Linked DNA regions of Homo sapiens: regions 2, 3 and 4 are each reported to be linked to region 1. Evidence: microRNA targets listed by miRTarBase, many of them from high-throughput screens and not tested one by one. Region 1 holds a microRNA gene; each other region holds the end of a gene's coding sequence.

The links. The annotated mature microRNA hsa-miR-607 reads GUUCAAAUCCAGAUCUAUAAC and lies in region 1 at 3,498-3,518, shown strand. An mRNA with a match to its seed (bases 2 to 7 or 8) in the 3' UTR can be bound and repressed. Matches are read on the target gene's strand: a 7mer-m8 pairs with bases 2 to 8, a 7mer-A1 pairs with bases 2 to 7 and ends in A, and an 8mer does both.
Region 2: the mRNA of ABHD10 is a reported target of hsa-miR-607. Seed matches in the 3' UTR shown: 8mer at 5,779-5,786 and 8mer at 5,731-5,738.
Region 3: the mRNA of CREBZF is a reported target of hsa-miR-607. Seed matches in the 3' UTR shown: 8mer at 3,148-3,155, 7mer-A1 at 3,201-3,207, 8mer at 3,524-3,531, 7mer-A1 at 3,580-3,586, 7mer-A1 at 3,654-3,660, 7mer-A1 at 4,106-4,112 and 3 more.
Region 4: the mRNA of PDLIM5 is a reported target of hsa-miR-607. Seed matches in the 3' UTR shown: 7mer-m8 at 6,186-6,192, 7mer-A1 at 6,121-6,127 and 7mer-A1 at 3,881-3,887.

Annotation. Positions count from the first base shown.
Region 1 is chr10:96,824,525-96,832,201 of GRCh38, reverse strand. It overlaps MIR607 (microRNA 607), which reads left to right and starts at 3,438; the gene lies at 3,438-3,533. It overlaps LOC102723665 (a long non-coding RNA gene), which reads left to right. Exons shown (of 1, transcript NR_135921.1): 1 at 1-1,570. RefSeq lists silencers at 1, 22-321, an enhancer at 1-95 and a cis regulatory region at 1,357-1,556.
Region 2 is chr3:111,990,128-111,997,889 of GRCh38, reverse strand. It overlaps ABHD10 (abhydrolase domain containing 10, depalmitoylase), which reads right to left. Exons shown (of 5, transcript NM_018394.4): 5 at 4,522-6,513. The coding sequence ends at 6,169. Among named protein-coding and RNA genes, the nearest start is that of TAGLN3, 4.9 kb to the left of the region's middle.
Region 3 is chr11:85,657,323-85,665,084 of GRCh38, reverse strand. CREBZF (CREB/ATF bZIP transcription factor) reads left to right here. Exons shown (of 1, transcript NM_001039618.4): 1 at 1-7,095. The coding sequence starts at 210. The coding sequence ends at 1,274. Among named protein-coding and RNA genes, the nearest start is that of CREBZF, 3.9 kb to the left of the region's middle. RefSeq lists enhancers at 373-422, 693-982, 1,093-1,332.
Region 4 is chr4:94,662,526-94,670,287 of GRCh38, reverse strand. PDLIM5 (PDZ and LIM domain 5) reads right to left here. Exons shown (of 13, transcript NM_006457.5): 12 at 7,751-7,762; 13 at 2,065-6,310. The coding sequence ends at 6,221. Among named protein-coding and RNA genes, the nearest start is that of BMPR1B-DT, 91 kb to the left of the region's middle. RefSeq lists an enhancer at 1-1,994.

The sequences.
Region 1 (7,677 bases):
CTGCCGGGGGCGGTGCGGGGGCAGGGCCGGCCTCACCTCACCGTGGCCCCGGCGTGGCCCGGGGGCGGCCTGGGCCCGCTCACCCGCCCCGCGCGCCGCCCGCCGGGCTGCGATCCCGCCGTCCTTCTACGCGGCTGCCGCCGCCTCTGGCCGCCCGGGACGGCGCCTTCCCACAGCCGGAAGTCAGTCCCGCTGGCCCCGCGCCGCCTTCGCACTGTCCCCCAAGGCCACGGCTGCCCCCGCCCTCCCCGGGGCTTTTTGTTTTTTACGCCAGCCCCATTTATCACTTCCAACCTGCCTATCGCCCGGCACCAACTGTTGCAAGTTCCGTAATAACTGCTGCTATGAACTTCTCCGTCGAAACTGCTCCTCCCCAGAGCCTGTTTAAGAAGCAGAAATAAGAATAAATTCCCGGATGCCGGTGGATGCACTGACCTCTAAGATTTTCAAAGGTGAAGTGGATACACGTTATTAAGTCATTGGGAGACATCGCCAACATTGGGAAACCTAGTAAAAAGTGGAAATCGAGCGTTTTAAATAAAAAAAAAAAAAGGTTTCTACTAGCAAGACTGATCGTAGGCGAACTTCTCAAGGAATTTTGGAATATTGTGCCAAAGTGAGAATATTTAATATTTCCAAAAGTAGACTTAACTAGGAATACTTAAAGCAGAGACTATTGGAAATGCTTTAATTTGGGATTTCAGGAAAGGGCTTGAAGAGAAATATTTTATATGAGCAAGCCTCTTGGAATAATTGAATCACCTTAATTTTGTCACTGTTACTTCGAAGAGAACGAGAAGAGAGAAGATGGGAAACGAAAGGAGAAAGGGAAAAGAAATGGGGTGGAAAGAAAAAAGCAGAAGAGATCGCCCTATACCAGTAGGCCTAGTACCCTAGGATTCTGGCCTCTTTCTCCCACCTTTGGTGTTTAAGATTAAGGACAGTGCATTCCTGCTTTTAGAAATTTAAATTTAAGTTTGAAGACTTAATTTTAATTACTGTAGTAGGTAAAGCAAAGTCGTTAAATACTTGACATCAGGATCCCATTGGAGTATTGATTTAGGTCTTTTCAAAGGTGGTGGTCCTGGTTCTCTGCACCAGCCACTGGCGGAATGGCGGAATGGTGTATCTACCAATGAACAGATGGACTGGGTGGGCCTCGGGTACGGGTGGCTTGAGATGCAAATGCAAGGGTAGGAAGGCACCTTCCCCCCCACCACTCCCAGCCCACCCCGCCAATCTTAAAACATTGATCTTTATAAAATTCGCAAACGTCCCACAGGATTTCATTGGCTTAAGAGTATTGTCAAATGAAGACGCCAGGAAGTATTGAGTTTCTGGGTACATAATACTGTCCTGAGTGTTGAAGGAAGAGGACTAATACGAGATTTTAAAAAATGGCTGTGGACAACCATCCTTCAGGTGTGATGGCAGGACATCTTGTATCACCTGAAACTTCCTTTTTTCGCCGCTAGGTGGTGGGTGTGAGTCTTTTGCGGCCTTTAAGTTTCTACGGTGTTTGGAGGAAATACGTTTCAGTTTCAAATAAATGAACAACGTGTAACTCTAAGATGAGTAAATAATCAATGTGTTTTCCAACCACCCCAAGTTAATTTGTTTAAAAAACAATCAAACCAAGGGTAATAATTCCTCGACATAATCTCTTAGTCCCAGACATATGGATTCAGAGAATCCTAGAGGCTTCAGAGATCAATTTTGTAACTTAAGATATGAAATTGGAAGCCCAGACAAGTAAGGTGATTTGACCAAGATTACATAGTTGCTGGGTAGAGAAAGGGCAACAAAAGCCAGGAGACAAGTTTCCCAATTTCCAATTTAATGCTAGTTTTACTACTCTACTCTGAGTTCCAATTTCTGCTTCACTTATTTTGAGTTGGGAACTAACTCATGGTTGACCTATCACAAAGACCTATTTGGAAGAAAGGATAGGGAGGCAATAGTAACAGCTAATATTCATTGAGCACCTATTATATGTTTATCATTGTTTCATTCCATCCAGATAATAATGCTATGAGTATATATTTACCACATTTTCCAAGTTAGGGACACAAGACTCAGATGAGTTAAATACATTTGTCAAGATCACATAGCTACCAAATTCTAACTAAGATCTCTGTGACTCTAAACCCCTCTAAATTGTCTTACAAGTAGAAAGTTGGCTTGGCGCGGTGGCTCACGCCTGTAATCTCTGCACTTTGGGAGGCTGAAGTGGGCAGATCACTTGAGGTCAGGAGTTCAAGACCAGCCTGGCCAACATGGTGAAACCCCGTCTCCACTAAAAATACAAAAATTAGCTAGGCATGGTGGTGGGCACCTGTAATCCCAGCTACTCAAGAGGCTGAGGCAGGAGAATCCGTTGAACCCAGGAAGTGGAGGTGGCAGTGAGCCGAGATCGTGCCACTGCACTCCAGCCTGGGCGACAGAGCTGAGACTCCATCTTGATAAATAAATAAATAATAAGTAAATAAATAAATAGTCTTACAAGTAGAAAATAGACTCTGCAACTGGAGGATTCACTTAACTCTACATGACATGTTCCGAGCACAGTTAAGCAGTTGGACATTCTGTGTTCCTATCACATGGCAGGCGGTGTCCCAGGCACCGAGGACATAGATAGATAAGACAGAATTTCTGACCTCTGTTGCTTTGGGCTACTGTTAAAGAGGGCCTTAGCTGTAAACTCTTACATTCTAGGGAGGGGCAGGTAATATAACATGGCAGTTAATAGGGTCTGAAGACAGCTGGGTTGGAATTCTGGCTCCATTTTTCAGTGGCTGTGTGACCTTGACATATTAACTTTTCTGGTCATTAATTTCCTCATGTGAAAAAGAGGATAATAATAGTCTGCAAGATGGGGTTTGTGTGAAAATGAAATGAAACTATTCACGTACAGTGCTAGCACATTCTTAGCATGAAATGAGCATCTGTTCTCTGATTAGGCCTTCCTAAGCTCCTATCTGTTTGCCCAGTCTGCAGGATGATGGGAAACCAAGATGCTTCTGCAGTTTGGAGTTAATCTGTGAGAGTATGAAGGAATGATAGCAATGACCTCAGCCTTTGAAAACAACCTCTGAGCCATGTTCTATAGTTCTCACAATGGCAGAAAAGGAATGTCAGGGAAGGGGAGTAGGACTTGGCTTGTCAGCATTAGATCAACTACTACCTGGTGTCTGATTAAAGATGGCTTGCAACATAGAAATGATCATTGACAAATGGGAGGATGAAATGATTGGGGCCTTCTAAAAAAAGCATGTCCTAATGGGAGGCTTTTTTAAAAAAACATAGTCAACTTCAAATAAATTCCAACAAGCAAGAGATGCTTTTTGAAGCACGTTTCAAAGATTATGTTATTTATTCTTCGCAACAACCCAATCGTGTATCCCATTTTATAACAGAGCACAGAGAGGTTAAGTAACTTGCCTAAAGTCACACAGGTTATAGATCTGGATTGGAACCCAGGGAGCCAGACTGCCTGGGTTCAAATCCAGATCTATAACTTGTGTGACTTTGGGCGAGTTACTTAAAGCCGGCTCTTTAACCATCACACTATTTTTTGCTTCCAGTGCTATTTCGGGGAAATGAGACCTAAGTCAGAGACAAGACCTAGCCAGACAGAAAGGAAGCCATGTCACTTGGTCACACGGCTTTTGGTCTTTTTGAGAAACTACTCATGTAGTGGCTTTTTTTGCTTAATAAAAGACTTTCAGGCCGGGCATGGTGGCTCACGCCTGTAATTTCAGCACTTTGGGAGACCAAGCCGGGAGGATCACTTGAGGTCAGGAGTTCGAGACCAGCCTGGACAGCATGGTGAAACACTGTCTCTACCAAAAATACAAAAAAAATTAGCTGGGTATGGGGTGCACCTGTAATCCCAGCTTCTTTGGAGGCTGAAGCAGGAAAATCACTTGAAGCCGGGAAGCAGAGGTTGCAGTGAGCTGATATCATGCCACTGCACTCCAGCCTGGGCAACAAAGCAAGACCCTGTTTCAATAAATAAATAACTTTCAGAGTTTCTCTCTTTTCAGCCTGTATACCTCTATGCCACTGGCCTAGAAAACATGTATGATTTTACTTTATGTTGTACGTGTGACATTTATTTTTCTTCTGTAGTTTTATTGAGATATATTTCACATACCATAAAATTCGCCCATTTGAAGTGTCCACTTCATCTGAAAGCAGGCAGTGGGAGGAGTGGCATCTCTTGGCTTTTTCCTGGGCTCTTGGCTCTGGGTCTTTGGCGCATGTTTTAGCATGGTAGAAATGTTTGACTGTCCCAGCCGGGTGCTGCCTTTCTGCATAAATGAGATCTTTTCTGCCTGGCAACATGGTTTTACCCTCACATCCAAAAGCTCCTAGTTCCTACACAGCTACTGGCTTGTCTGTTTTGAGGCAGTTCCCTTCTTGGAGGTTTCCTTGATATAGCTATGGGTTTGGGTGTCCACTATCCCCATGCCACTAAGCTTGTTCTAGAGTTCAAGACCCATCAACCCCTGCCCCCCAACCACCACCAACTGCGAAAGATTCCTCTTGGGCTCTTTCCCCATTATCTTTTCATCCTACCAGTCAGAAAGGAGGATCATTATTGGAGATCTACTGTTTACTAATATATTGGATGGAGGTGGTGCCCACCCTCTTGGCAGAGGAAAAGATTACAGCTACTAATGCGTCTGACCCCAGCCTGAACCAGTGTTTTAGTATCAAAGGCAAGTGAGACATAGTGTTGCTGTTCATGACCTTGTCCCCAACACAGCCACCTCTGTTTCACCTGCCTTACGTCCAGAAATGCTTTATCCCTACTGTGGAGCAGCTGACTCTGGGGATCCCATGCCAGAATCATGGGGAGATAGACCATGGCCAGGATATATTTCCAGCAGAGAAGCTCTGTCATCTGCAGGATTGCAAGGTGAACCTTCACAGAGCTGCCTGCGGTGAGTGTATTGTTGCACCCAAGACTTCCAGCTTCCCTTACTGTCAGGGGACCTGCCTGACCCTCAACAGTGAGCTTCATCAATCCAACTTTGCACTCAAAGTTTGCACTATAAGAGGGGAGTGCCTATTGATCTGTTCCTGGCTCTTTCAGACCTGTAGTCCCACCAAGGTCATTCTCTTCTCCCTAACGGTCCAGGATGACGAACGTAAGATGAGCGTTCACTGTGTGAACGCATCCTTGATAGAGAAGTGTGGCTGCTCTTGAGACACCCGGGAGCCTCCTCCTGGCTCCATACCCTCCTAAGTCTCGGGACTCAAGTGGGGGGTGGGATTGGTTCCCATAGCAACTAGAGCTCTTTGAAGGGAGGTAGGATTTGGCTTCTGTTTCTCAAAGCACAGCAAGAAGGATGGAGTTATGGCAGTAACCCCTCTTAGATGCTCCTTTTTGACATGGACAGAGGCTCCCCCAGTGCTGTTCTCAGTAACTCCTATTACTGGGAAGCTGAGCCCATTGAGATGTCTGACTATTGCTCTGTCCTAGATTGTGTGAGTGGGCCAGGCTTAGTGCCACCTCTGGAGTTACTTAGATGGAGAAAGAGGAACTGGAATTGGATGCATGTTAGCCCTCAGTGTAGAGGTAAAATTGTTACTGGTGTTAAACAAGGCTGGCTTTGGACTTTTCCAAGCTCGTTAGCTGCCACTGTCCTTCTCTGTACCATAGGACTGGGGCTGGTCCAGAGCTGGCCTAGGCATGTAAATTCCTCCCTACCTAGCATTCCTGGCCTCTTTGGAGTGAGTGAGGGCTCTGTCCAAGGCAGCATTCTGTCATGGGCTAGTTATGGGCAAAGGGCACCAACGCCTTCCCTACCTAGTGTCAGATGGGAGCCTCTGAGTGAAGAACATTGCTCGACAGATTGTTGATGGAGGGGGCTTCTGGCATCAGAAGTCTTTCTTTCTTTTCTTTTCTTTCTTTCTTCTTTCCTTCTTTCCTTCTTTTCTTTCTTTCTTTCTTTTTTTTTTTTTTTTTGAGACAGAGTCTCACTCTATCACACAGGCTGGAGTGCAGTGGCACAATCTCAGCTTTCTGCAACCTCCACCTCCCGGGTTCAAGCAGTTCTCTTGCCTCACCCTCCCAAGTAGCTGGGATTACAGGCACCCACCACCACGCCCAGCCCGGAAGGTTTTCTTACTATCATTTAAGGAACTTGATGATATTAGCTTTTCTACTATCTTTAGAACTTAGTACCATTACAAAATAATAAAAGAATAAAATGTACACTTCAGGGGGTTTTCGTATATTCACAAAGTTGTGCAACCATCACCACAATCACTTTTAGAACATTTCATCACCCCAGAAAGAAACCCTGAAATATCAGCAGTTATTCATCATTCCCCATCTCCTCACCCGCTGGCAACAACAAATCTAGTTTTTTCTTTTTTTTTTTTTTTTTTTTTTTGAGACAGAGTCTCGCTCTGTCGCCCAGGCTGGAGTGCAGCGATGCAATCTCGGCTCACTGCAAGCTCCGCCTCCCGGGTTCACGCCATTCTCCTGCCTCAGCCTCCCGAGTAGCTGGGGCTACAGGCGCCCGCCACCACGCCCGGCTAATTTTTTGTATTTTTAGTAGACGCGGGGTTTCACTGTGTTAGCCAGGATGGTCTCGATCTCCTGACCTCATGATCCACCCGCCTCTGCCTCCCAAAGTGCTGGGATTACAGGCGTGAGCCACCGTGCCTGGCCAAATCTAGTTTTTTCTCTATGAGTTTTCTTATTCTGGACATTTCACATAAATAAAATCATGCAATATGTGATTTTTTTTTTCTGACACAGTCTTGGTCTGGTGCCCAGGCTGGAGTGCAGTGGTGCAATCTTGGCTCACTGCAGCCTCTGCCTCCTGAGCTTAAGTAATCCTCCCACCTCAGCCTCTGGAGTAGCTGGGACTACAGGCATGTGCCACCAAGCCTGGCTAATTTTGGAGGGATTTTTTTTTTTTTTCTTTGCAAAGACAGGTTTCACCATGTTGCCCAGGCTGGTCTCGAACTCCTGGGCTCGAGTGTTCCGCCCACCTCAGCCTCCTCCCAAAGTGCTGGGATTATAGGCATTAGTCACTGTGCCCAGCCAATATGCGGTATTTTGTGACTGGCTGCTTTCACTTAGCATGTTTTTAAGGTTCATCTATATAGTTTTTTCATAGCAACCTGTTAAACAAAGGTTGATCTATGTTGTAGTATGTATCTGTATTTACTTTTTATTTTTATTATTTGAGATGGAGTTTCACTCTGTCGCCCAGGCTGGAGTGCAATGGCACTATTTTGGTTCACTGCAACCTCTGCCTCTCGGTTCAAGTGATTCTCCTGTCTCAGCCTCCCAAATAGCTGTGATTACAGTTGTGCACCACCACACCCAGCTAATTTTTGTATTTTTAGTAGAGACAGGGTTTCATCATGTTGGCCAGACTAGTCTCGCACTCCTGACCTCAAGTGATCCATCAGTCTTGGCCTCCCAAAGTGCTGGGATTACAGCCATGAACCACTGAGCCTGGCCTATATCTATTTTTTAATTTTTTCTTGTTAAATATTTCATCATTTAGATACAAAATTTTGTTTATGTATTTCAGTTGATGTATATTTTCATTGTTTTCACTTTTTGGCTATTATGAATATGCAGCTGTGAACATTTGTGTACAAGTTTTTGTGTAGACGTATGTTTTATGTTTATTATGAATATGA
Region 2 (7,762 bases), not on the chromosome of region 1:
TTGGTGTTGTGTAATTCTCTGGGTGTTTTTCATGAGAAAAATTCCACATTTTTTTTCGTTTGGTTCATTTCTTCATTCAACAGATATTTACTGAGTGTTTATGCCAACTACTGGACTGAGGAGGAATAAAATACAATTCTTGCATTGAAAACAGATTGATAAATTGACTCAAGCATATTAAATAAAGCAATTCTGGGTACATGGGATGATGATCTTTGTCCCTGTGGGAAATTGATTAGAAGCTATGCAGGAAATGACTCCTCAAATAATACATGTATTGAGAAAAATCTCCTACCGGCTGATGCCTGGACTAATGAAAATTTAATTACTTAGGAGATATGTGGGTGGTTTGCCTGAAAAAGACTTAGCGGTCAGTCGTTGAAGGCCTGGCAGACAGTCCTCTGAAAACAGAAAACTAGGAGATTCAGGAGAGCAGTAGGTTTAGGAAGAGACAAGGGAAGGGCTGACTAAGGCAGGTCTTGATGCTGCATGGAATCATCAGTTGAAGAAGCTCAAAAGACAGCAGCACTGTGTTGGGACACTTGGAGCTTAGGGGAAGAGCTTAGAGCAGGGAAATTGACAGAAGAATTATGGAAGTCATCATTGGTATCTTGGGGAGGAGCCATAAGGCTAGTTCCAACCTTAGACTAAGGGAACGGAGTCCCAAACAGAAACCACATAATTTTTTCCATGGCTGGAATGGCTCTAAGGAAGTTGTTGGTTTGATATGCAAAGCTTGAAACAATTCTAAAGATGTACATTTGCTTGACTTTTTTTAAACACTGTGTTTTGCAAATCTTTTGTACCCAAAGAGTCCCTCATATTATAACAGAGTAGCTGGTGTGCTTTAAGTGAATGACTGGGCCCATGCTTCTAGAGAGGATACAATGGCAAAGAGAGGGGCCACAGCAGGGCATGGAAGTGTCCAGAAATCCAGAGGAAGTCTTCAGAGAAAAAATGCTTCATCTCCTCAGGGGTGACAGTGGAAATCAGCTCAATGCCACATTTACTAAGTGCCTACTAGTATTATAGTTAATGTTTTCAACAACTTTTTCTTTCTTTTTTTTTGATTCGGAGTCTCACTCTGTGGCCAGGCTGGGGCGCAATGGTGTGATCTCAGCTCACTGCAACCTCTGACTCCCTAGTTCAAGTGATTCTCCTGCCTCAGCCTCCTAAGTAGCGAGGATTACAGGCATGAGCCACCACAACTAGCTTATTTTTGTATTTTTAGTAGAGACGGGGTTTTCACCATGTTAGCCAGGATGGTCTCAATCTCCTGACCTCGTGATCCGCCCGCCTCAGCCTCCCAAAGAGCTGGGATTACAGGCGTGAGCCACCGCGCCTGGCCTCAACAACTTTTTAAGGGCCTATGTGTATAGCTGAGACACAAAAATAAATGATACATGACAATTTGGTTTAGTAACGAAGTTAAACTTGTAAACAATAAATGCCAGATGTCATGCTAAAATTATGCACAAAGAACTCAGGTTGGTACAATAATACCTGGAGGAGGGTGTTAAGGAATCAGGGGACAGATTTATAAATGAGATTATTTTAAGTCTTGAAAGACAAGTAGGTGTTTGCCAGGTGGATAGAGTGAGGCAAGAGGGGTAGGGAATGTTGCTGTCAAAAGAAGTGTATTTAAGGTGAAAATCTTCCAGTATTAATAAAACATAGGGTTAAAGAGAAGAGAAACATAGAAAGAAAAATGAGGCTGGAATGTCAGGCAGGCTCCAGATTATAAAATGGTGTGTTTGCAAGTGCCCATGGTTAAATTTTCAGGAATTTCAAGAGACAGATGCTAAACTCAGTCATTCTTAGCAATAAGGTTATATTAACTTACTCTTAAATAAGTTATATTACAAAGAAAAGTTACTAAAAATGAAGCACTTCCTGATTTTTTTGCTACATTTTACTGTTAGCTATGTTGAGGATATTTGCGTTTATTGTCTCTATATGGTGTAAATACTATGTGATGGTGTGCTACTGGGTATTTTCTTCCAGCTTTGCATTCAGAGATGTCATGATGTAGTTTAAAACCAGCCAGGGCAGGAATATTTATGCTGTGAATGTTAGCAAATGCTACAAATCAGGGCTTCCACCCCACCACCAAAAGCCAGTTGTTAAACTGGCTTTCAGCAACTGGTTTTTGTTTGTTAAACCAGCCTTTCATGGACTCACATATCATGCAAGAGTTTGAGCTTTTTCATAGAGAGAGAGGATCATCAATCTGATTTGGGTAAAGGAAAAGGAGACAGAATGACTCACAAGTTTGACTTGTATAACAGAAGCAATGGTGGCGCCATTTATTTTAAGAGGACTCATAGGTGGGGAGAGACATAAAGCAGAAAAGATAATAAGGTTTGGATTTACTGCATTTGGGAAGCCCATGGTCCATCCCAGTTCATTAGGCAGTTGGTTTTATGGGTCTGGAGCTCAAGAGTCTAGATTGTAGGTATGTAGTTGAGTCACCTGCAAGCAGGTAGTAGTTTAAACCATGAACATGGGTGATGTTCCTCAAGGTGAATAAGTAGCAAGAGAAGACTGCCAAGGCCAGAACTCAAGGAGTATTAACATTATAAGGTGGGCAAGGAGGAGGAGCCAGTAAAGGGGTTGATATAGCATAGTCAGAGGTGTCTGAGGACAAACAATGTCAAAATAAAGCTTCTGACCTTGGTCATCCTTTGAGAGAAGGAAGCTAGGATATAAACTGAGAATTTCAAAGCAGCAAGTGGTACCAAAAAGGCATGGATAGAGTACTGTTCACAAGAGAGCCCAGAGGACCCAGCAACAAACTTCCTGAAAAAGAGAGATGGGGATGAGTAAGGAAAGGATTCTGAGAGACTGACTTTTGAGCTTCTTCTTTAGTAGAAGTTTACCTGCAAAACCCTGAAAGCCTAGGAAAAGGGGAAGACAAAATGGGAATGTATATTTTCCCCAAAAGATACATTTGGTTAAAAAAAATTGCCTGCAATTTTCTAGGTATATTCTCTAAATACACCAAAGCATCACATTTTTTTCATCCAACCATTACACATCTCCACGATTGTTTCTAAACTAAGAAGTACTTGAGATCTATATTTAGAGGATCTTAAAAAGGTATATTGAAATTCCACCCACCTCAACCCCAGAATATAAAAATTCTTTAGATTTAACTGTTCCAAATTTAATGAGTATTTGACATATTCGCTTTGGGGACTATCCTGGGAATAGTTATGTGGCAAGTAATTCTTTCAGCTTTCTATCTCCATATTTTATAAAACTCAGTGTTGCCCAGAGCTTTTTTCTTCTCATTCTCCAGAGACGTTTCTATATTGGCTGTTTGGAGAATGGTGTACTTTTTAGATTTGTATCTGGAAATGCCTCTAATCTCAACAGATGTAGCAAAAGCAAAATAGATTACGTGGCTTCACTTAGCCTTCTTTTCAAATGGTATTTGCCTTATCCCTTTCTGTTGTGCATACTGAGATTTAGAGGGGTCGTGTCACTTATTTTAAATAATGACTAAGTTCCAGGGGCTAAGGCACTGAAGGGCTCCCAGTTATTCCTCCATTTTACACGTCACTAAATACATGGGATGGAACGGTTTCAGAAAGGAGCTTTGGGGAAAACTAGAAAAAACAAATAATTAACAGCGCACTAAAATACACTAAATCTCATGGATGCAAACTCATTTGGAATTTGCGATGTTAACCTCTGCAAAGCTAGATTAAATTTTAAAAGATTTTCCTAACTTTAGGTAATAAAGGTTCCTTCTCCTTTTTTGTTTTAAACCATTAGCATTTGAAAGAATACCATACAACATTCCTATTTGGGATCTTGAGGTCAGGAAGGTCAAATCCAGTCCAGTTCAGTTCAGCTTTAGAAGACCTACCCACTTCCTTGCCTCCACCTTCCTTCCTATGCCTTCATTGATTGTGTCCATCAGTCTCTGAAGGGACTGTGTTCTGTACATAATGAAAAGCAAAAAGATACTGCCTCCTGTGTCATTGTTCTAAATGTATTGTGCTTATTTAGACCTTACACCGCATTATCTAGGTTTATGTTATTTTACAGAAGAGACTGAGACTCAGTGAGGTTAACTGCTCAGTCACAGAGCTAGTAAATGGTGAGCCAAAATTAAAAACCAAGCTTGTCTCTGACCTTAACCATTATGCTATACTGTCTCTACATATGTATTATAAATCTCAAATCATATTTATTATTTTGCGCAGAAAACCATCATTGGCAAGGGCCCTTGCCTTCATGTTCCTAACAAGCCTCACACCTAGCAATGTCTAGGCAAAGTAAGTCCTTGAATAGCCAGTGCCATCTTCTATCAACCCACTCCAGCACCAGAGACTGTGGCACTCATAGATGATTTATCTTTGCTGTTTGTAATTTTTGTCCAGTATAAAAGATAACCCATGGATTGTAGTTTAATTGCCCCGTAGGACATAAACCAGTTTTGTATCTGTGGAGAGGCCCTCACCACCACCCCCAAATTTGAAGATTTGCTAGGAAGACTCATAAGACTCCACATACAGTTCTGCTCACGGCCATGATTTATTACAGTGAAAGGATACAAAACAAAATCAGCAAAGGAAAAAAGACACATGGGGTGAAGTCAGGGGAAACTAAGTGCAAGCTTCCAAGAATCCTCCGCCAGTGGAATCACAGAGGATGAGCTTAATTCTCCCAGCAACCAGTTGTAACAGCACTTGTGAAACACTGTCAACCAGAAAAGCTTGTTAGAGACTGAGTGCCTGGGGTTTTTACTGGGAGCTGGTCACAAAGGTAGTCTCTGCCTGGCACATACCAAAATTCCAGACTCCCAGAAGGAAAGCAGGTGTTCAGGAGAAACTATATTGTTTTACAGTTTAGATATAGTAAGCTACTTTGATCAGTTCTGGGAATGGTGGAAGCCCCCTGAACTCCAAGTTCCCAGATGCCAATCAAGGGCCAACCTTGTAAAGCAGGTCTCTAAGGTTAAGTAGTCAGGTCGGCTTCATTAACACTTTTTTCTGCACAGCAATTTTATCTCAACATTTTTTCTTCAATGCCCATAAATACTCAGTTTCTTGAATTGTACTTTGAACCAGGTTTACTATCTGCTGGTTTCCTCATTAATGAGTCGAATAAGTCTTCGACACATGCTCATCTTATACACATGTATATATATGAGTCATGTTGTCAACTTAAAAGGTTTGACAGATAATAACCTAATCAAGCTAAATAAAGTCCAGCCAAAATTAATTAATAAAAAACATTAACTAAATAATATCAAGGCTCAATCTACACCTCACTTTAGTTATTTAGGAAAGAAAAAAAATAACCTTTATACTAGCATTTCACACTTTCTTACTGACTTTAGAACGTCTTCTGATTTAGGTGGCAATCACTTGCCTAGTTGTACTTAGGGCAATATTAATAAAATAATGAATGTTTCTGCAAGAAATAATATATAAAGATTAATTTCCTCTTTAATTTTACCAATCAGAATATTAAAAATACTACATCATTGTTTTAGATGAAATTCCCCATTTAAATATATTATACATAAGCCAAATTTTAGAAATAGCTCCTTGTATCACTGTACAATTTTGGGCCTTTAAAAAAAAAGCTCAATTTTAAGTTTGAATATAATGTGCAGTTTATATAACATATATATTATATTATATATACTTTATACATTATATAAAGTATTATCCTTATTGTGAACTTTATTATGCTTCTGAAATTTCTCCATCATTTCAAATTTACTTCAATAAAAATTTCCCTATATTTTGTGAATTGCATTTTCAAATCAGAAGTAATGTTACAAATTTCTGTCTATAATAAAAAACAAAATATTCACGCTTTATTAATAATCCTAATTAGAAAAGGATGCAATTAAGAGCTGGCATAGCTAACATAAGCATAAGAAAGGTAAACTTTTCTTGAATTAAAAAAAGGAAATACTTTAATGAAAAAAAATCAAGGACAGAAGGAAGGAGAAAATTTTCTAAACAGCAGCTGGTCCTTCTTCACAATTTGCATTACTTATGCAAATACATCATTAAATAATACTCATCTTATATTTACAAAATAGAGGAAAGGGAAAAACCTAAAGTATCAGGATCTTTCATTTCTTATCCCTCTTCCAATCTTCTGGATACATTAGTTTACATACCAACTAAACATGTGATACTAGTTAACTATAGTTGAGAGCTTATCAATTAAGTCATCAATAGTGTAAACAAGAAGTTGAATGTCTGCTTTTTCCCTCATTCGGTGATCACTGTGTTTTCGGAGGATGACATCCACATCTGTGCTGAGTACTCGATCGGCAACCTGCATTGATGTATGCCAAGGTACAATGTCATCCTTCATGCCATGGAGCAATCTTATGGGGCAGTTCACAGGAATTGGGCTATGTAACAAGCAGTGATGTTCAGCTTCTTTAATGAAACTGTACTGAACGTTATAAACTCCTTCTTCAGAGTATTTTGATGGCATGCTCCACACACCTTTCATCTCTACTTCCTTTTTTAGCTATTGGAAAAAGAAAGAAAAATAAAAGTATTTGTGACTTTAGGCAACATTAACACATGCAATAGTTTTAAGTAATCTAATGAAAGCAGTTCTTGAATAAGAGGATAGAGATAACAAAAGTATAACAATAATAATTATCAATAATTACTACATGCAAGGTACTGTGATGGGTATTTTATACATATTATTCCATAAGATTCTGATAATAATTCTGTTATTATTCTATTTTTATAAAAGAGGATATTATGGTTTAGATAAATGAAATACTGTGTGCAACAGTTCAGGGCTAGGCTACTAACTGTTATGGCTAAGACTCAAACTTAAATTTAAATTTATTTAATTTTATCATACACTATCTCAAATCAGATGTTGCTTCACCCCAACTGAAAAGAAAAATGAAGAGGGAGAAAAGCACTACAATTTCTTGGAATCAGTCCAGGTATCATTCATATTTAAATAAAATCAAATCTTAGAATAAACATTGTTTAGATTTCAAAATTGTAAACCTAAAAGTGCTTATAAGTAGCTAAAATGGATATGGCATAGGGAAAGAAGAGAAAGAATCAAACACAGAACTAAGAATAAAAAAATAAGAGTAATTACATTGTAACAATCATACACATACTCATGCAATTTTAGGCTGAATGTAAAGAAATATAGTTTTTCCTTCCAGAGTCCTATAAAAGAGAAAAAATTTGATTTTTGTTCTGGATGACAAAGAAGTCTTCCACATACTTCCTGAAAGCCAAACAATAATATCTGTATATTTATTCCCTTAAAATGAAATATACATGTCCTTTGACTTTTTGAGAACTCTTATTTTTTATATAATTTATCTTAATTTTTCTAAAAAAATTAGAATTTTGTATAATGAGTAACATGCAGTCATTATAGAAAACATAAAAATAATTAAAGAAATAAATCACCCATAATCCTATCTTATGGAGAGAAAAACCATTAATATATGGCTTATTTCCTTCCAATATTTGTCTATATGTGTTTTGGTTTTTGTGTAATATGTAAAATACATACATATTACACATTCATATACAGTTTTCTATGCTGTTTATTTAGTACATATATTTCTGGGTTTAAAAAATTCTATGAAAAGGTTTTAAATGCTGCACAGCAGTCCACCATAATTGACTTAATTAGTTTGACCATCTCATACTGTGGTATTGTCATGAACACTTTTGAGCATAAAAGTTTATTTATATATAATAGATTATTGGAAAGATGATCACAGCTT
Region 3 (7,762 bases), not on the chromosome of region 1:
CAGGGCCTCACCGCTTCGTTCTCCCGTCCCTCCCCGCGCCTTGGCGCGGGGGGTCGACTAGCCAAGTGAGGCGGGAGGCGACTCGGACCTTTCCCTGCATTTCGTTTCGGCCAGTGCCGGGGGCTACCCGCCCTGGGGCCTGGGATCCTTGGGGCCCGTGAGGCCCACTCTTAGCGGCCGGGGCCTACCGCGGCCCGCCGCTGGCCCTCATGAGGCATAGCCTGACCAAGCTGCTGGCAGCCTCGGGCAGCAACTCCCCAACCCGCAGTGAGAGCCCGGAGCCGGCTGCAACTTGTTCGCTGCCCTCTGACCTGACCCGGGCTGCAGCGGGGGAGGAGGAGACGGCGGCGGCCGGATCTCCCGGCCGCAAGCAGCAGTTTGGCGACGAAGGAGAGTTGGAAGCCGGGAGGGGGAGCCGCGGCGGCGTGGCCGTGCGCGCGCCCTCCCCCGAGGAGATGGAGGAGGAGGCGATCGCCAGCCTCCCGGGGGAAGAGACGGAGGATATGGACTTTCTGTCTGGGCTGGAACTGGCGGATCTCCTGGACCCCAGGCAACCGGACTGGCACCTGGACCCCGGGCTTAGCTCGCCGGGGCCTCTCTCCTCGTCTGGCGGAGGCTCGGATAGCGGCGGCCTGTGGAGAGGGGACGATGACGATGAGGCCGCGGCTGCTGAAATGCAGCGCTTCTCTGACCTGCTGCAAAGGCTGTTAAACGGTATCGGAGGCTGCAGCAGCAGCAGTGACAGTGGCAGCGCCGAAAAGAGGCGGAGAAAGTCCCCAGGAGGAGGCGGCGGTGGCGGCAGCGGTAACGACAACAACCAGGCGGCGACAAAGAGTCCCCGGAAGGCGGCGGCGGCCGCTGCCCGCCTTAATCGACTGAAGAAGAAGGAGTACGTGATGGGGCTGGAGAGTCGAGTCCGGGGTCTGGCAGCCGAGAACCAGGAGCTGCGGGCCGAGAATCGGGAGCTGGGCAAACGCGTACAGGCACTGCAGGAGGAGAGTCGCTACCTACGGGCAGTCTTAGCCAACGAGACTGGACTGGCTCGCTTGCTGAGCCGGCTGAGCGGCGTGGGACTGCGGCTGACCACCTCGCTCTTCAGAGACTCGCCCGCCGGTGACCACGACTACGCTCTGCCGGTGGGAAAGCAGAAGCAGGACCTGCTGGAAGAGGACGACTCGGCGGGAGGAGTCTGTCTCCATGTGGACAAGGATAAGGTGTCGGTGGAGTTCTGCTCGGCGTGCGCCCGGAAGGCGTCGTCTTCTCTTAAAATGTAGGGTCAAGTAATCTGCTCTTTATCCGCGTTTACCCCTTTCAACTCCCTTACACCATGTCAAACTTACCTTAGTGGGACATCTTCACCGGACACATTTCAGAGGAGAGAAAAAAAGTAATATTGAATCTTAAAGTGTTTAGCTAAAAGCATGAATGTGACACAGTAACCAACTCCTAATGATAACATGTGACTATTAAATCTCTCTGACAGTTTCTTTTTTAGGTGATTTCCTTCCTGCCAGGCTCCGTTGTAGGGGTTACAGAACAGTCGTTCCCGCCTCACAACCTGGTAAGGATCCATCTCTTCCCGTAACGCTCATGCTCTGCTGCTTTGTCTACTTTAATGGGCAACATCTCAGTTTGTGTGTGTGTGATTTTTTTTTTTTTTTCTGTTTTGGAAGGTGGGAGGGAAATCTAATTTGGGCCCTGTCCACCCTGGAAACAGACTTGTGCTGGTCAAGAATGTATTTAAGATGCCTCTTCTGGTTGAAATAGCTATTAATGTGTCCCCTTATTCAGACTTGCGTGTACCTAGCTCTTCTGTCCCCAGTGTGGACATGGCCTTGGATGACATCGGTTCCAACTGTACACTGAAACCTGCTTATAGAGAGACAGTTTGGAGACAGTGAAACAGGTGAAGTTGAATGGAAGTTCCGAGTTGTACAAGGTGCAAATTGGAATTCCGATTTTAGGGCAACTTTTCAGAGGTTGACAGTTAAGTATTTGGGGCATGCACAAATGTGATAGTTATTTTGCTGGAGGTGACAGGTATCTCTTAAATATCAACAATGCCTTTTAGTTTTCAGTATGAGATATAGAAACAGTCTATAATGGAGTAACATTTTAATGTCTCACCATTAGAGAAGTTGGAAATTAACATACATATGAGACTCCTGCGTTTTAGTTAATTGGAGAATAAGAATGGCTAATGTTTCTTTGAGGACCAGCAGTGATTACCCTATCACTGAGATTGAATAAATTGTTGAACATCTTTATTTTTGTTGTATTAAAATTTTAGGTTAAATTTATATATGTATGATTAGATATTGAAGGTTGTGAAATGTGAATGAAAACGTGTAAAGTGAGGCTTCACAAAGAATCTTATTCTCTGTGTTTCAAAAGTATTTGTCCTATTTTAAAATAATTTTTTAAATTGAGTGGTTCTGGCCACTTAAATGACACGATTGGTACTATTTTCCTAAGGTGGGATTTATTCCCTTGAATCTATTAACCAGTTGTATAAATTGAATTATGGTGTCCTTCAGTGTAAGAGGCATTAAGAAATTCTTTGTGAAACATCACTGCTTGATAAAGTATATACGTATTTAGCATCCTTGTTTTTCTTTGTGCTAAAGTGGATACAGCTGTTGGGGCAGAAGAGACGGGACCAGCTGCTGGCCACATTTCCTGCTTTATTTTAAAAGGTAGTATAAGAAATGAGGAAAAAGAGGTAATATCAGGGCTTCTGCTGTTTTTTATTTTTAACATGTTCATAATTAAAAAGTATTTTCCAGCAGTCCAAAGATGTAAGTTATCTTACACATAAAATGTTTTATTTTGTTATTTGGTTATGAAAATGGAATCCTTGTTCTTGCACAACTGTAAATGTTTTGTTGCTAGATAATACGATTTGAGACCTGAATTGGTCTTTGGTTTCCAGTGCATCACAGCATATTTTGTAAAATCATCTACTACTGCACTTGAGCATGAATGGGTAGTAGCCAAACTCACAAATTGGAGTGATGAACCTGCTTATACCTAAGGGCAGGAGCAAGCCCCTCACAATGCAGCTGCATGGGTTTTTAGTGCCTACTGAATTATATATATATATACATATATATATATATATATAAACCAAAAGTAGTTGGAAAGATTATTTGAAATGACTAATTTGTGCTATCTTTATGAAATATGTTAAATGTAGCTTTTTTGAAACAGAAGCCTTGAATTGAAATTTAACTAATACTTGAACATTTTGTATATATTTCTTTGTATATAATTTTGTGCAGTACCAATGACAAAAATATGGTGTCATAATAAAACCAGGTTTGTTGATCTTTTAGTTATGGGCTCAAAGAATTTATTCATCTCTAACATGATATTGGAAAATAATGGATGAAAATAGGAAAAATGATTGTTAATGCTGACTGTGGGTCTTAAAAGGTTCTGGAAAGCAGTAAGTTCATTTTTCTAAAAACTATAACATTCTGTTGGAGTATTTTCTTCCTTACGTCAATACTTTTCCTGCATTATTTGAAATTGTGGGCTGGGGAGAAACAGTAGTCAAAGCTTTCTGAATTGAGATACTTTGAAATTCCAAGTGTAGATTTTTAGAATGTCATTTTATAAATGGCAGTTTTTGGAATTACTTGATAAGAACTTTTGAAAATGGAAGGATTAGTATGGCCTATTTTTAAAGCTGCTTTGTTAGGTTCCTTATGTTTTATTAACTGTCTTTTCTCAGTTTCCATTTCATTTTTTTTTTTCTAGTTTTGGTGACTTAGTGATTTTGTCATTTTTTACATCAACTTCATGGTCTTGTTTTTACATGGTAATTGCATGTACTTAGGATCTATCTAATAGGGGCTTTAAATAAATTTGGTCATATTTATGTGTAAGCACATTTTACTGTAAATGTTTGGGTTTCTGAATTTAAACAGATCTGTTTATTTCAGTATGTAGTAAACAATATCTTAAAGTGTCCGATTCACTACTTGTTAATTAAAAAAGTTATGATTAATGTGAAACTGTTGTCTTACTATTTTTAGAAAATTGTGTTCTGGATGATTAGCACATGGATAAAGGAGATTTCTGGAATATAAAATGGATTGTTTTTGAAATTTCTAGGTTTGGCTCTATTTACTGTAATGGTTGAAAACAATTTAGTATTTGGGTGACCCTTTTGTTTTTCTTCTAAATGTGCCTCTGGTAAAATACAGAACTAGACTAAAGATGTAGCTTTTTAATATTTGTCTTTTGATGGTGGCAGGAGTTCATACATTAATTGAACTAACACATCATATTTTGACCTACTATTTCTATCATATTGACTTACTGTTTCTGCACTTCTTTGACCAGACTTATCTTAAAAAGTCCACTTTTGTTAAAATGTAGTCACACCTCTGATATAATCCAACAAGAAGTGTTCAAAATATTTTAAATATTTGTGCATTTTATAATCACTAAATTAATCTCTCTCTCTTCTCTTTGAACAGCTTAGCAGTGTCTGCAAAAACGAATCTTTTCCTACAACCTGTTAACTGACTGGACTGTTGGTAACAAAGTAATTGTGAGAACCATGTCGGTCAAAAATTTGGCATCTGCTGAAAAAAATGAATGCCATTTTCAAGTTCCCAAATTACTTCTATACTGATTTCACTTTCCAGAAATGGAGATATGAAAAGATTCTCTGGAATCCTTGAAAGACTTAATAGAGATACATGAGACTAAGTTAATCTTGGAACAAAATTATACTTTTTTTGTCTTTCATGGGAGTGATACTCAGTTATTGCATATCTTTACAAAATTGTAACCTTTGGAGAATTACAGTATTTCATCAAGAAATTAGAGTTTTTACATAATCAAGAGCATATTCTATGGAATTAACATTTAGTGGACTAGAATTACATAAGCAGGCCATCAGTGATCACAAGGCATATGAGTTTGTATTTATTTCCTGGAACATGAGAGCTAATTTGGAGTACAGACAGACACCCTGCTGAGTAGAATATAAAAGTTAATGTAAAGTTCTGAACTATAAAGAGTAGTCCTTTTAAATAGATGCATTGATTTGTATATCTTTGAAAAAGTTGATTATGATTAAATGTGTGGGTAGTTAATTACAATTTAGGGTAACAACCAGGATGTATGGATTCTTGAGGTTTTGGCTTCTTGAGCTTTCTCTTGAGTACTTGATACTGTTTTCTGAATATTTTGAGGTTTCTAATTAATGGTATGCTAGTTTCTACTGTTTTATATAAAAATTTATCTAGTGTTGTATAAGGACTTTAGTATTGTGGATGATGGGAGTGGCTTTTTGTGGCATATGGTTGTTTTAATTGAAATATTTTTTCAGTTTATTACAAGTGTGAAAAAACACTCAAAACTCTGGATTGTTTTATTTCATTTTTGTTGGATTATGTTAATACATTCCTTCACGTGGTTTAGATTGAGTCATTTTATCTCACTTACTTGGAAATGTGCAGCTGATAGAAGAGGGATTGGGTAGGAGATTGGCTTTTACTTCATAATAAATATACAGTTGGTTATTGTATTATTCAAAACTTATTAAATCCATTCAGTTTCTTACCATTTTAAGTGTATTCAGTGCCTGTGAAGCCAGGCAGCAGAGTATTCCCACTGGCTTAAAACTTAGGCGCTGATGCTCCTACAGTACAGCTAGTTATAATTCCAGAACCAAAGGCACCAACATTATTTGGTGACCTTAACTACTACTTTGATAGAACAGACTGGGTAATTCACTGATAATGAGTCATTACCTTTTTAATATGTGATTATCTAGTTCAGCATTTTGAATGTGTAGTTTAAGGTCTGATTTAGTAAAATTTTAAAGCTAAATAATCTGATGACTCTTGAAAGTTTAATTGGTAGTATGACATTTATGTTTTTTTCCCCCAGACTCACAGCCAATACAAAGTTTTGAGACTCCTAAATGTTAATATTTTTGCTGTTTTTCTGAGCTGTTTTTTTATTTACTTACCACCTAAGCTGCGGATCAAAAAGGGAATTCTTCCATTAGAAATTTGTAGTGTTGTGTGGCCAGCACAGTATTTTTCAGATTTGAATTTCAGTACCTCTGTGTAGCCTCAGTACTCTCAACACCAGTCACTCTTTATTGTCTTAAAATATTCCATACTTTTTGTTGACCCAAAATTGTTGAAAATATTTTGCTCAGTTTTCACAATGAACTAATTGAAAAGTGTAGTTACTGTGTTGTAAACATTTGTGTAGTTCTGTTAATACACTGATTTGAATTTTATTTATCTCAACTTCCTTTAGCGTCTGCCTCCAAATTTTGTCTTTGCTGTATACCCACTGAGATCAATTCCCTAGACCCCTCTGGCTCTTAGTGTACTATAATTTGGGCTTTATAAAATATATTGTCTTAATTTAAATAGAATGTGAGCCCTCTTTTTTTTTTTTTAAGCCAAATAACTACACAAAGTAAATTATAAAAGATTTAAATAGTTTGTCTACAGTGACTAGACTGAAATATAAAAATTGATTGAGGGTAGTTTACTTCAGGTGTTAGCTACAAATGACTAAATGTCCTTAAATAATGCAGATATCTGCCCTCTGAACAAAAATTTTGGCAAAGTAAATTTGTAGCAACAGACTTAACATGATTTATTGCTTATGTTGCCCATTTCTGCTAATGGAAAAGATAATTTAAAAATATGTGGCAGAGGACAGATATTAGAAATACTTTTTGGTTACAGAAACCATTGTAAACTCATCCTCATTTATAAATGGTATTATGCTAGGGAGTAATTGGACTAGGAATGTTTAAAGATAAGTAAGGAAACAATGTGTGCTCAATCGTCAAAGAACTTAGTTATATCATTGGGCTTTGAATTATCTAAGTTGATTACATAATTCTATATTCTTAAGGAGTCTTAACTCGGTACTTGGGTTAACGCCAGAAATTACTTTTAATTCATTGTTTTTTTCACTGGGATGAGTAGAACTCTGCTTTTAGTAAAAGTGACAGAATATAGGTAAAATGGATGATTTGGGATCAGAGCTTTTCATCTTGATATTTTAGCCTGTAAAATAAACAGCTATATTGTTTTGCCCTTTAAATGTTATATATATTTTTCTGTCTTTCTTTCCCTAGTTGTAAAAGTAAAGCATATTCTTTATAGAAAACTTGGAATATCCTGAAAGGAATCAAGAAGAAAAGAAAAATCACCCTTATAACTCTATAAGCCATAGAATATCCACAGTAAACATTTTGGCATGCTTCCTTTCAGTCTCTTGTGCACATAGATTCTTTTGCCTCATAACTGGGATCATTTTTTATATAAGTTTGGTAGATAATATATTTTATGTGCCTGTTGAAAGAACAAATCATCTTTGCTTTCTGAAAAATTGAGATTGTATTTTATTAATTTCACATGAGTTTTTCATCTTTGGCAGCACAGCTTTATGTTTTTCTTTAAACAGAAGCTAAAGGCCAGTTTCACTCACAAAGATGCCTTTTCTAAATTATAATTTTAAGTAGCATAAGATGACTTAACAGATATGTCACTATTTGGAAGTAATAATTAAGAGATTCATGAATAATCTTGGATGCCACTTAAAATTTTGTTTGGTACTTTTCTGTGATGATTGGCTTGCTTCATAAGTGTTGGTTTAGATCTACGCTGTCCAATACTGTAAGCATTAGTCACGTGGCTAAACATTTTAAATGGTTTAAAAGTAAAAATTCAGTTACTCAATTGCACTTGCCACATTTCAGGTGCCCAGC
Region 4 (7,762 bases), not on the chromosome of region 1:
CAAACAAAAGAAACAAGGAAAAAAGAGGAAAAAGGAAAAAAAATCATTATATTTGAACTAGAGAGCAAACATGACAGTTTAGAATATGAAGATGAAAAATAATTTGGAACCCAATTAGAAAACTTCAGACAGAAAGAGCAGAAACTTTGTCCTTTGAAACACAGATGCATAAGAGACCGTGTCAATCAACTCAAGGACCTGGCATAGAAGTCATTTTCCTTGGGAACTGTATTTACCATATTTGAGAAATTGAAAAATTATACTCCCTGAGAATTCTAAATTGCTTTATTTATCTCCCCAAGGTCAGACAAGTGGTTTTCGGACATGGAAATATCCCATTCTACACTAAACAACAGCTCCAAGCTTTATTGTGTGTTATTACATGCAGTCACAGACAGGACAAAATAAAAAAATTGCCTTCTTGGCAAACTTCTATTTAAAAGGGCTCCCCTAGTGCTCTACCTTTAGCGAAAATCACAAAATGCATCTCACTTTTCCCCAACCCTGTGTTCAAGGTATGAAGGCTACACCTTTCTTATTAATCATTGATGCAATCTTGCCACCTACCCAGACAGATTCTAAATCACAGAATCAAAAGTTCTGTAATATAATACTATAGACAAATGGTATACAGTCCTGTAAATTCTCCTCAGAAAATGAATAGTTTGGCAAATCAGGCACTTGCCGCATTAAAAATAATATGCATATCTCCATATACGATAAATACACAGGCAACATTTGGGCCCGGTACTTACTGAGTTAAATCCTCTCATTCATACGTACAACACAAAACCATATCAGTCTGAGATTTCTGTTAGGTAGCCATGTGTCCTAGCACCTTTCCTCTGTTAAATTTTAAATACTGCAAAAGAACCATTTTCCCTGGGAGGCTCCCACACTTGGGATGAAACTTTCTCTGCGGAATTTTGGCACCCTATTAATTAGTGGTTATGAGTGGGAGCTGCTCTCTCTCAGCAACTCCTATTCTGCCATCAGTCAAGTGTGATTCTGCAATAAATTTCCACGAAGCAAACTATTTCTGGTAATTCTCCCTAATTAACACCAGGCCTGCTAATAATACATCAGTACCTATGTGTTTCTGATATAACCAAGATCTTGTCTGAGCATACCCAAAAAGGGAAACCGCCAATCCAAATTAAGCTTTTGCTGGCAAAAGGATTTTATATGTAGTTCTGTAAGAAAACCTTTGATAATCTTATATTGGGGACATTTCGACTAGAAAACACTGAACGACAGGGAGGCTTGCTCTGGTTTGAGCACTGAATGGGGATTTATTGTGAACACACGGTTGAGACTTAAGCCTATAAATCTTGTACTGGATTACTGTTTCTTAACGAAGGAATGACAGATCTCTTATTTTGTCGGTGCATTTTAATGTGCAATGACGTGATTGATAGAAACCAAACAGCAGCTATTAAAATGTCAGATGCAGACTTGATGCTCTTAAAAGTTTGGCTTCTGGAGTTTAATATACTGTGAGCAAATAGACTTGAATTTCTCTTTTATTCCCAACATAGAGCGTGCAACAGAAACATCTGTCTTAACTTTATACAGTTGGAAAAATATCTTAAACTAATAAACAAATGAGGCAGAGGTGAGCCTACCTAGTTGTGGAATAGTCAGTTAATGAGATTGAGATGAGTTAAGCATCCCAATATCTAATGCAAAATGTGGAAATATGGATGATGATTTATGTTCTTTGATTATGTTCTAATATGATGTTTGATATGACAGGTTGTTCCAATAAATCATTTCAGCAATAAATATTTTCAAAAGACAATAGACCTTATTTATCTATTAATTCATAAACATTGGGTACATTCTACATGCACGGCATAAGAACAGAGAGAAATACAATAAATGTGACAGTATTTTCAAATATTTTGTTTCTGAGACATTTTGATAAGCAAATATCATACTAGAAGGGTTCTTCTGAGAATTATTACATCCTATCCTAACCTGTGAATATGGAACTTGATTATTTTCCCATGATGACTTGATGGAAACCACTCGCCAACCAACAACAACAAAAAGGAGAGCTCATTTACAACAATGCAGTCATTTATTTATTGAGTATGTGCACATTATGGTATTATTACTATACTGATTATATTTATCATGTGACTTCTAATTAGAAAATGTATCCAAAAGCAAAACAGCAGATATACAAAATTAAAGAGACAGAAGATAGACATTAACAGATAAGGCAACTTATACATTGAGAATCCAAATCCAATACATTTAAACATTTGGGAAATGAGGGGGACAAATGGAAGCCAGATCAAATTTGTGTAAAACTATTCAGTATGTTTCCCTTGCTTCATGTCTGAGAAGGCTCTCCCTTCAATGGGGATGACAAACTCCAAATGCCACACAAATGTTAACAGAATACTAGATTCACACTGGAACGGGGGTAAAGAAGAAATTATTTTCTATAAAAGGGCTCCTAATGTAGTACTGCTTGAAAATGGTACATTTTTGTTGTAGATTATTTTAAACATAATGCTATAGTAATATTTTGAAGATTTGAGCTGTTATTTCCATTTGTTTTTACACTGTGACTAAATGATTAGGTTTTAGTTTTAGACTCTAAACGGAACCTGAATTAATAGGAAATAAACACGGTACTATAGTTGTCCTATGGTGCCCCTATGGGTGATGGGTTCCAAGAACCCCCTAGGATACTAAAGTCCATGATGTTCAAGTCCCTTATAGAAAATGGTGTAGTATTTGCATATAACCTATGCACATCCTACCATACACTTTAAATCATCTCTAGATTACCTATAATAGCTAATACAATGTAAATGCTTTGTAAATAGTTGTTATACTATATTGTTTAATGACAAAAAAAAGTTTGTACATGTTCAGCAAAGGCGCAACCATCCATTTTTTTCCCCAAATATTTTTGACCCACAGTGGGCTGAATCACAGATGCGAAGCCTATGGACATGGAGGGCCAACTGGACAAGCATAAGCAGGGGATACTTTTTAGGTTGCTACTTCAGCAGGCAACATTCAGACCATGGAAGTCTAGAGAAAGATTATAAATCTGAACTTACCGCTAAAAATTTTAAAATGGGAAATAAATCCAAGGAGTTTTTAGTCATGCATTATGATTTTAATCTATGTTATGCCAAGTACAGCATTCCAAAATATACATCTAGAGACTAAAAGTAAATGCTCTATAGTGAAGAAGTAATAATTAAAAAATGCTACTAATATAGAAAATTTATAATCAGAAAAATAAATATTCAGGGAGCTCACCAGAAGAATAAAGTGCTCTGCCAGTTATTAAAGGATTACTGCTGGTGAATTAAATATGGCATTCCCCAAGGGAAACAGAGAGATTCTTCTGGATTATGTTCAATATTTATTTCACAGGATTAACTGTTTTAGGAACAGATATAAAGCTTCGCCACGGAAGAGATGGACAAAGCACAAAGACAACATGATACCTTAGGAAGCAACACTACCCTTTCAGGCATAAAATTTGGAGAAATGCAACATTATGCTTCATGAATAATATGTAGAAAGAAGGTCTGATGAAAATGACATCCTTAATGTAAGATAACTTTATAAGAAATCTGGGTCAAATAAAATTCTTTGAAGAAAACATCCAAATGTCATTGACTTATCAAATACTATCTTGGCATATAACCTATGAAGGCAAAACTAAACAAACAAACAAAAAGCTCACACCAAACAAAACCATCAACTTATTTTGTATTCTATAACATACAAGACTGTAAAGATGTGACAGTGTACATTATATGACAATGCACATTAGCCAGCAAGTCTTTTATAGGTGGTTTCAGCAGCAACGATAAATAATGCAGAATTCAGCTCCAGCACTTTATTTCAAAAGAAATTTCCTGCCTCCCTCCAAGATGCAGGGTGAGGAGGTAGCTTGGGGTTGCTATTGGAGAAGTATTCAGTTTGCTACTTTGTGTCACCCCTTGCCATTCTTTTATCCCCAGTTAATTATTATCTGCATATAATATAAATCTGCTAGACCATAAATTAACAGCTTTCAGGACAGATGCCTTGAAAGTTCTTAGGGAGGTTAAACAAATATTGTAGCCTAAAACCTCCTCTATAACAAACATGCACACAATGGAAGTGATGTCGTAAGTGAGTGATGGGGCAGGAAGGACCTAGGGCTCTGTCTCGACTATAAAATCACCTTGCCCCAAACAAATTTAAATTATAACTTAGGAGGTTCATGGACTTTCATCCATTCTGGAAACAAAGAGAAAAACCAAATCAAATACCAGAATCTGTTTTCTCACTGGGCAAATAGCAACAGGATCCACAGTTTTACCACAATTGTTTCCCTGTCTCCATGTGGTATCTACATAATTCTTTTCCCAAAGGAGGAAATCAAATAACAGGCCAATCTGAGTAATTAAACTCCCCTCCCAACACTACCCAACCTCTGTGAATAAAAGCTTTCCAAACTTTGTGATCACATTTGAAATTGGTTCACTTATTATTGAGAGAAAACCACAAAAAGTCTCAATTTCATCACATCCTCAAACCAATCTTTTAATTTTTAAATGCAGAAGAAGAAACAAAACGAAACAAAAAGATCATTCTGCAAAGAGACCTCTCAACTCTTCATCAGCCAGTGGCATAACTCAGAAACTGATTTAACTAATTTATTATTTGAGAAAAGGGGATTGAAAAACAATTGGGGGGTATAATCTTCTGATTCACAATTCCCAGCCACATTCTTTTCTATTTATTCTCTCTCTCTCTTTTTTTTTTTTTTTTTTTTTTTTTAAGAGCCGGAGTCTTGCTCTGTCACCAGGCTGGAGTGCAGTGGTGTGATCTCAGCTCACTGCAACTTCCGTCTCCTGGGTTCAAGAATTTTCCTGCCTCAGCCTCCCAAGTACATGGGACTACAGGCACGCCCCACCATGCCCAGCTCATTTTTGTATTTTTAGTAGAGACAGGGTTTCACCATGTTGGCCAGGATGATCTTGATCTCTTGACCTCATGATCCGCCCGTCTTGGCCTCCCAAAGTGCTGGGATCACAGGCGTGAGCCACCACACCTGGCCCTCTATTTATTCTCTTTAAAGAGAGAGAAAACTATGAGAGGCCAAAATTATTTAATTAAATCTTTACCTTAGCACAAGGGAAAAAAATGGAATTTGCCTAATATAGGTGATGAAGCATACACAATGAATAGAAACAATCACATTTTAGTAAAAGGCAAAAATTTGAGACTTATAAGCTATATGGTAGCTTATTTTTGGGTGGGGAAGAAATGAGAAAAGAATATAACATCTCTTACTGGCATGACACATTTTGATAAAAAATCTTATTGTCCTTTCCTACTAGAATGATCCACTGTAAGGCAAAAATAATATACAAGCAAAGTTTTTTTTTGGAGACAGAGTCTCACTCTGTCACCCAGGCTGGAGTGCAGTGGTACGATCTTGGCTCACTGCAACCTCTCCCTCCCGGGTTCAAGTGATTCTCGTGCCTCAGCCTCTTGAGTAGCTGGGATTACAGGCGCGTGCCACTGCGTCCGGCTAATTTTTGTATTTTTAGTAGAGATGGGGTTTCACCATGTTGGCCAGGCTGATCTCAAACTCCTGACCTCATGTGGTCCACCCACCTTGGCCTCCCAAAGTGCTGGGATTACAGGCGTGAGCCACCGCGCTCAGCCTACAAGCAATTTTTTAAAAACTGACACCTATTACTGATAAAATTCTCTGTTTAAAATCCTATTTACTATTTTAAAGATAAGTATTAGTTTTTTTTTAAATACAATAATTCTGTTATTGATAAAATTTAAGGCATTTTCATTGCCTTTTGCAGATTTACTCATAACTACCTAACAAGGAAAGAAGGTATAATTATTTCAGATTGGATTATTTATTCTAAAATTAAATTCTTCACTAATTTATTCTAAGATGAATTTAATAGTCCATCAGGAAATTGGTTTTTATAAAGCTTATTTTATGGGCATAAAATACAGGAAAAAGTAATAATAAATGCCAAACCGTCTCTTTACTTTATGAAGCCAAATATTTCCTCAGACTTGGTTTTTAAAGCTGGAATTTATTCCTTCAGGGCCACTATTATTTTTCAAAACTCCATATAAATATTGAATCTAAAAATTAATTAGTAATTTTAATTTTCCTTTTTCTCTTCAAATTCCTTCTCTTCTCCTGAACTGTTGACTTTCAAAAATTCACAGAATGAGCATGTTTCTTACACAGGGGCTTGTCCTTCTTGGAGAAAAAGGTCTGACCTTCCAAACTTTCACAACACACCTGAAAAAGAAGCAGCATTTAAGAGATATTATTTAAGAGGATATTAAGAGGATTTTACCCAGTATGCTGGAGAAGGAGAGAGTGATTTTTCCCCCCAATGGATAATATGACAAAACACTTTAGTTGGTTAAGTTAGACTCCCTAATATTTGACGATTACTATAACATTAGATATAATCTTTCAAAAGCAATGAAAAATTGCTTTTTCCTAGAATGTATTCTAATTTATAGAAAGCACTGATCATCACTTTTCTTTATCCAGAGGGAAGATTTATCCCTAACTTGAAAATCAATATAGAAAGGGGGCTCGTTAAATATATTTTATCTCCCCAAATTATAAACAACGTCCTAATTTTGCTTTGTGTTGTAGAGACTCATTTGCTTTACCAAACCTTCCCAAGCCCAACATTAGCTTGCTGCCAGTTACACAGGCACAGAATACCTGAGACCCTTTTTTTTTAAGGGCTGCCTTGTGTTCAAGCTGAGACCTCTTTTGTTTGTTTCTTATAACCAGGTCAGTATCTGGCTGCTGAGGATTATACAGTCAGTCCACTATCTACATTTACAGCTCCTTGTTCTTCCTATTGCCTTTGTTAATTAGAATGAACAGCTTTATTAGAAAAGAAAAGGCAAATCTGCTAAAAGTTCTGCTTTTTATAGACTTTATGAAGTCTAAGAGATGGATGAGGTAAACAAGCAAAAGTTCAATGGTAATGTTTGGGGAAATCATTAAGCACCGATTAATATTACTTTTGCCCCCTTTGTACAATGAGTATTGAAAACTGTAGATATGTTAAATCTAATTTTAAAAAGTCAAACACCTGAACAGAGCACGTTTACTGGATATTTACTTCCTACATTTAAAAACTATTTATTTTAATATTTGAATCCATCCTAATCATTAAACATAAAACCAAAAATATTAAAATATCAAATGAATAGGCAAATACTTTATCACGTTTATTGGACCATAGTCTCAAAAAGAAAAGAATATCCAGGGGCTATTGCTAAGAAAAGAAATGACTCAACATATAGTTTATTCCCAGTGTTAATCCAATAGCCGATTTTTATAATTATTTATTTGTATTTTAAGAAGTACCTAACGTTTCCAAAAACTACAACAAACACTCCAGTAACAGAGGTTTTTTTTTTTTTAAGTAAAGGAATCTTACTGTTTTAAGAAATACATAGCTTCTCCTTATAGACAAAAATATATTAAAATTGTATTTTCTCTAAGGACTAAGGATCTCACTGTGTGCCAAATAATTTCAAAAATGCCAAAAAATTTAATAAACAACTTTCGAAATTTACAAAAAATTAAAAATAATTTTTCCTTAGGTTTGAAGGACTGAAAGACCCAGAAGCTGATATTTCCATTAAATACTAAAGCTAGAATTGGCCATACTATACCCCTTTAATTAGGAAATAAGACTCTACTTACTGAGCATACAAA